Linked DNA regions of Homo sapiens. The protein of the gene in region 1 purifies or fractionates together with the protein of each later gene. This does not show direct contact. Each region holds a gene or a part of one and is shown on either strand. Other genes may lie near its edges.

Region 1 (3,500 bases):
AGAGGACGAGGAGCCTGGAGTGGGAACCGTGATCCGTGAAACCTGCAGCTTCTGCCCCAACTGGGGATCTGAGTGGGTCTTGCAGGGGAGCCCCAGGCAGCCCACACCATGGGGCTGCCATACGGAGAGGCCCGCGTGATGGGGCAGACGTGCAGTCCCACTCTCAGAAAGCCCCACAGAACGTCCCTGGCCCTGTCATCCCGCCTAGAGAAGTGGGACTGGCACCTTCTGGGGAAAAGGGAAGAACGGCAGTTTGCATGAGTTCCAGTTATGAGCCTAGCAACAGGCTGGTGTTTCCCTGGGTCAGCTCACCTGGTACTCATGACAGCCCCCTGACGTGGGTGCTGTCATTATCCCCATGGTACAGGTGAGGAAACTGAGGCAGAGAGAAGCTGAAGCAGCAGCAGCAGCAGCAGCAGAGCCCAGGCCAGCAGGCCCCAGAATCATCACCTGACCATACCCTGGACCAGTCAGCAGTTCCCAGGCTGGGCTGGACATCAGAACCCCCAGGGAGCTTTAGACATGTGCCAGGTTCCAGGGCTCCATTCCAGAACTTCTCCTATGGGCTAGGGTAGTGGGTGGTTGATCTGGGAATCTCTACTTTAAGTAGGGAATCTCTCCAGAAGGTCTGGATATTGAGCACTGGCCCTGAGGAGTCAAAGGCCTGTCTCTGTGCCTCTAGGACAAAGCTGTGGGGTGTGCTCTCTCGCCCTGGTAAAGAAAGGAAGAGGCCTCTTTTGTTCTCTTTCTTCTTATATCTCTCCCTGCCACCGCCAGGAACAAGAACAGAACATCTGAGCCCACAGGGCTGGGGAATAATTTCTAACAAGGCCACACTAGCTAACAATCATGAAATCAAAATTTTGTAGACAATATAATCATCAAACAAGGCAGTGAGTCACAGCTGGCCGGAACCTGGGTGGCTGCACCAACTGGTAAACAATGGCTCTCAATGCCCCACCCTGAACCCAGGATAGTTTTAACTCTTTCCCTGCAGGTCCAGTGGTGAGATTCTGAATTTAGGAACATGCTAGGGAAGGAAGGTCTGGAAGCAGAACTGGAGACTTGGCATGTTCAGGTGGAGGCTTTGTGGGTGTGCCCGCCCTGTGGCCTGGGCCCTGCACAGAAGGGAGCAGCAGGCCCCGCCCTCCAGGGCCATCGTGACTTGGCTGTGGGTTTCATGTACTTTCGTGACTACTCTTGGCGAAGCTGGAGGGGCTGACATGACAGAGCCCCTACGGAGCCCCAGAGGAGACTAACGCAAGGTCATGAAGAGTGGGCGTGATCCCCTCAGACTCTGCCTCCCTGAACAGGAGGCCGTGGGCTCCACCACGCCGGGCTGAAAGCTCTACATCCATGACCTCATCTGATCCTCACAACCATCTCTAGAGAGGAGTATCATTACACTCATTTTACAGTGGAGGAAACTAAAGCTCAGAGAGGGTAAGCCAATTATCCAAGGTCACAGAGTCAGAGGAAAAGCTGGAAATCAGGCTCAGATGGTCAGACACCCAGGCCCACACACTGAGCGACCCCACCACACTGCCCCCACCCAGGCTACTCTAGACCACAGGGAGGTCAGCCCAGGAAGCTAGAGCAGCTGGATTGCCAAGGCTACTCTAGACCACAGGGAGGTCAGCCCAGGAAGCTAGAGTGGCTGGATTGCCAAGGCTACTCTAGACCACAGGGAGGCCAGCCCAGGAAGCTAGAGCGGCTGGATTGCCAAGGCTACTCTAGACCACAGGGAGGTCAGCCCAGGAAGCTAGAGCGGCTGGATTGCCAAGGCTACTCTAGACCACAGGGAGGTCAGCCCAGGAAGCTAGAGCGGCTGGATTGCCAAGGCTACTCTAGACCACAGGGAGGTCAGCCCAGGAAGCTAGAGCGGCTGGATTGCCAAGGCTACTCTAGACCACAGGGAGGCCAGCCCAGGAAGCTAGAGCGGCTGGATTGCCAAGGCTACTCTAGACCACAGGGAGGTCAGCCCAGGAAGCTAGAGCGGCTGGATTGCCAAGGCTACTCTAGACCACAGGGAGGCCAGCCCAGGAAGCTAGAGCGGCTGGATTGCCAAGGCTACTCTAGACCACAGGGAGGTCAGCCCAGGAAGCTAGAGCGGCTGGATTGCCAAGGCTACTCTAGACCACAGGGAGGCCAGCCCAGGAAGCTAGAGCGGCTGGACTGCCAAGGCTACTCTAGACCACAGGGAAGTCAGCCCAGGAAGCTAGAGCGGCTGGATTGCCAACCAGGAAATGCAGGGAGAGACGAAGAGACGGCAGAGGCCTGTTCTGGCGTGTGTCTTTAATGCCAAAACCCTCCTGCCCCCTAGCTGCAGCTGATGAGAAGTTTTCAAATGGAGGTTCTAGAATCCCCACGCACTTCTTCTGATTTTCACACACACTGAGACTTGGTCACACGAGCAAGAGTCTGGGATCAGCTCTTGCCCACAGTGCAACAGACACTCCCAGGATGTCGGTCGCTGCCCCTCCAAGCACACCCTGCTAATGTGGTATCTGCCTAACAGCTTCGGGGGGTGGGTGCTGGGGGCCTGGGGTGCCTCATAGGAAAGGGGACCTCTAAGGTGGGGCCCAGGGCAGCCCACGGCAGGGCCTCCCAGACCCCGCCCTGCTCCTCCTGAGCTAGGCAGCTGCTGGGGGCACACACCTGTTTGCAGAACCTCAGAAATCCGATGGAATAAGTCTTTCCCCAGAGGCAGCAGGTGCCATACATACAGCTGGACCTGGAAGAGACAAGCATAGCAGGCAGTGGCAGTGAGTGAAGAGCCAGGACTTGGGAACAGTGGGGTGGGGAAGGCCGCCCTCCCACCCATCCAGACGAGCTGGGGCACACATTCTGGGCAGACTTTGAACCCGAGGCCAAGCACAGGGAGAGGCATGGCAGGGCATCCGCACATGCCATAGGCGGAGGGACACAGGGCTGCACTGGCCCTGGGGTGACAAACCAACTTGGAGAGCTCTGAATGTAAAAACTGCAGGAGGCAGAAACAGACAGGAAAGCACTAAGACTGAGACAGGAAGAGACAGAGAGAGAAAGACTGAGCCGCAGAGGCCCTCCTAAAACGCCCAGAAGAATGGCGTTGCTCAGGAAATGTGGTGAGGCACAGCAGGTCAAGGTCACGGGCAGACATGGTCTGTGTCCAGCTGGTGCCAGGACGGCTCGAGGTACACCAGGCCCAGGAAACGGGGTGGTTTAGGGCTCTGGGAAGACTCCATACTCACTCAATGGGTTTTCCTCTGATCTCCGACATGATGGAACTTTCTCCTCCTAGGTACTCATAGCACAGGCTCAGGAAATTATAGATGACCAAGGCTGCGAAGAGAGTGTCCAGGAGAAACCAGTCAAATCAGCAGAATGGGTCCGCAGATGCTGGGATTCTAAACAGCAATGGAGGTGAAAGAGCCACAGCTGTGTGTGGCAACAGGGAGGAGGCTGGGGGACATAAGGTTGTGCAAAAGGAGCCCGTCAAGAACACAGACATCTGACCT
Region 2 (3,500 bases), on another chromosome or scaffold:
GCTGGTATAAACAAACCTACTGTGCTGCCAGTCACATAGAAGTACAGCATATACAATTACATATATATAGAACTTAATACTTGATAATAAATGACTACATTACTGGTTTATGTATTTACTACGCTATACATTTTAATCTTTATTTTAGAGTGTACTCCTTCCACTTACTAAAAAAAAGAATAACTGCCTCAGGCAGATCCTTCAGGAGGTATTCCAGAAGGTATTCCTATTGTTATAGGAGATGACAGCTCCATGTATGTTATTGCCACTGAAGACCTTCCATAAGGAGGTGGAAGACAGTGATATTTATAATCTTGACTCAGTGTAGGCCTAGACCAGTGCGTGCGTGCGTGTGCGTGTGTGTGTGTGTGTGTGTGTGTGTGTGTGTGTGTCACAAAGACCTTAGATGGGTCACAAAGCTCTGAATGCCAAAAAAGACAGCAAGGACACATTCCACATGTTAGTACCACCACTGTAGTAGTGTGTGTATCGTAGTTTTTAACAAAAAAGTTTAAAAGTAAAAAAATAAAAAGTTTTAAGAATAGCATAAAGGGCCAGGTGTCGTAGCTCATGCCTATAATCCCAGCACTTTGAGAGGCTGAGGCAGGAGAACTGCTTGAGCCCAGGAGTTCAAGACCAGCCTGGGCAACAAAGTGAGACTCTGTCTCTCTACCAAAAAAAAAAAAGAAAGAAAAAGAAAAAAGCTTATAGAATAAGGACCTAAAGAAACTATTTTTGTACAAATGTACAATGTTGTTGTGTGTTTTAAGTATTACCCCAAAAGAGCCAAAAAGTTTTAAAGTTTATAAAGTAAAAAGTTATAGTAAGCTAAAGTTAATTTATCATTGTAGAAAAAATATTTTTAAATAAATTTAGTGTAGGCTAAGTGTACAGTGTTTATAAAGTCTACATTAGTATACAACATAAAGTCTACATTAGTATACAATAATGTCCTAGACCTTCACATTCACTCACCACTAACTCACCCAGAGCAACTTCCAGTCCATCCATGGTAAGTACTCTATACAGGTATACTATTTTTTATCTTTTATACCATATTTTTACAGTACCTTTTCTATGTTTAGATACACTTACCACTGTTTTACAACTGCCTACAGTATTCGGTATAACACCTGCTCATACAGGTTTGTAGCCTGGGAGCAACAGACTATATCATGTGTATAGTACACTATATCATCCATCTATGTTTGTGTAAGTACACTCCATGTAATGTTCACACAATGACAAAATTGCCTAACAACACATTTCTTAGAACATATCTCCATTGTTAAGTGGTGCATGACTGTACTTGAACTTGTTTCTTCAATTGCCTGATCTTTTTCAAGAACCTAGGAAAAGTGTATTTCTCTAGCAAGAAGACAAGAAGTATGTGTCTTACCTTGGACATAGATAGCATATTCACACAATCCCTGAGTCTCTTGAAGCTGTTCTTTGATAACAGCCTGAAAGAGGGAGAAAAATGCTTCTGAGCAGTGGTTAAGTTTCTTCAGGTGTCTTTAAGAAAAAGTGGACATGGACAGGCCAGGTGCGGTGGCTCATGCTTGTAATCCCAAAACTTTGGGAGACCAAGGCAGGCAGATTATGAGGTCAGGAGTTCAAGATCAGCCTAACCAATATGGTGAAACCCCATCTCTACTAAAAATACAAAAATTAGCCGGGCAGTAGTGGTGCGTGTCTGTAATCCCAGCTACTCAGGAGGCTGAGGAAGGAGAATCGCTTGAACCCAGGAGGCGGAGGTTGCAGTGAGCCAAGATAGCGCCACTGCACTCCAGCCTGGGCAACAGAGTGAGACTCTGTCTGAAAAAAAAAAGAAAACAAATAGTAATGAAAAAGCAGACGTGGACAAGAATCATATGTAAAAAAACCTAGAGTATTAATAATGCCTAGTAAAGTATTAGTTCATTCAGTTTCTTAAAATTTCAACTCCCTTGTTGTGATTACTTCTTCTAGAACAGGGATTTGCAAACTACAGGGCTTACAGGCCCTGTATATTTTTGTACAGCTCTCAAGCTAACAGTGGTTTTTTTATTTCTAAAGGGTTATAAAAAATAAGATAACAAATATGATGTAGAGACTGTATGTGGCCTACAAACCCTAAAATATTGTTGGCCCATTACAGAAAAAGTTTGCCAACCCCTGTCTAAAATCTAACTAGGCAAGCTAAGAAAAGTGTGATAAGATTTCCAAGTATTATCACAGATGAAAAAGAAAGAGAACCTTTCAAGATTCATACTGGTGGCCAGGCGCGGTGGCTCACGCATGTAATCCCAGCACTTTGGGTGGCCGAAGCGGGCAGATCACCTGAGGTCGGGAGTTTGAGACCAGCCTGACCAACATGGAAAAACCCCATCTCTACTAAAAACACAAAAAATTAGCCAGGCGTGGTGGCACATGCCTGTAATCCCAGCTACTCAGGAGGCTGAGGCAGGACAATCGCTTGAACCCAGGAGGCGGAGGTTGTGGTGAGCCGAGGTCACGCCATTGCACTCCACCCTTGGCGACAAGAGCAAAACTCCATCTCAAAAAAAAAAAGATTCATACTGGTATCTGCCTTCGGATCAGCGGTGTCAAAAAAAACTGGTATGGGCCGGGTGCGGTGGCTCACGCCTGTAATCCCAGCACTTTGGGAGGCTGAGGCAGGTGGATTACGAGGTCAGCAGTTTGAGACCAGCCTGACCAACATGGTGAAACTCCACCTCTACTAGAAATACAAAAAAAAAAAAAAAAATTAGCTGGGCATGGTGGCGGGCACCTGTAATCCCAGCGACTTGGGAGGCTGAGGCAGGAGAATTGCTTGAAACTGGAAAGCGGGGGTTGCAGTGAGCCGAGATTGCGCCACTGCACTCTAGCCTGGGCAATAAGAGCAAAACTCCACTTAAAAAAAGAAAAAAAAAAACTGGTATGAATCTTTGTCATACCAGTATGAATTAGTTCTGTGCATTGCCATAGGTATAAATGCCATGGGTATAAATTAAAAACCTTAGATGGGTCACAAAGCTCTGGATACCAAAAAAGATGACACCAAGGATACATTCTGCATGTTAGTACTACCACTGTCTGCCTGCAAGTTTGTAACACATATGGTATGTCACCAAAGATACAGAGAAAGGGAAATACAAATGGTTTTTAAATATACACATGATGATCAACCTTGCAGTAAGAGAGAAATTAAAAAATAAAACTCAGGGCTGGGCACGGTGGCTCACGCCTGTAATCCCAGCACTTTGGGAGGCCAAGGCGGGCAGATCACAAGGTCAGGAGTTCGAGACCAGCCTGGCCAATATGGTGAAACCCCATCTCTACTAAAAATACAAAAAATTAGCTGGGCATGGTGACACTCATCTGTAGTCCCATCTACTGGGGAGGCTGAGGCAGAAGAATTGCTTGAACCTGGGAGACAAAGGCTGCAATGAGCCAAGATCATGCCACTGCACTCCAGCCTAGGTGACAGTGAGACTCCATCTCAAAAAAAAAAAAAA

Evidence for each region.
Region 2: the proteins of TMEM184B (region 1) and BBS4 purify together in Homo sapiens (affinity purification with mass spectrometry; one large-scale study listed by BioGRID and IntAct). This does not show direct contact.

The regions. Positions count from the first base shown.
Region 1 is NC_000022.11:38,228,011-38,231,510, forward strand, and holds part of TMEM184B (transmembrane protein 184B), read right to left. Parts: intron 3,406-3,500; exon of another isoform or gene 3,325-3,405; coding exon 3,234-3,324; intron 2,735-3,233; coding exon 2,659-2,734; intron 1-2,658. UniProt on the Homo sapiens protein: May activate the MAP kinase signaling pathway.
Region 2 is NC_000015.10:72,710,207-72,713,706, reverse strand, and holds part of BBS4 (BBSome complex member BBS4), read right to left. Parts: intron 1,464-3,500; coding exon 1,400-1,463; intron 1-1,399.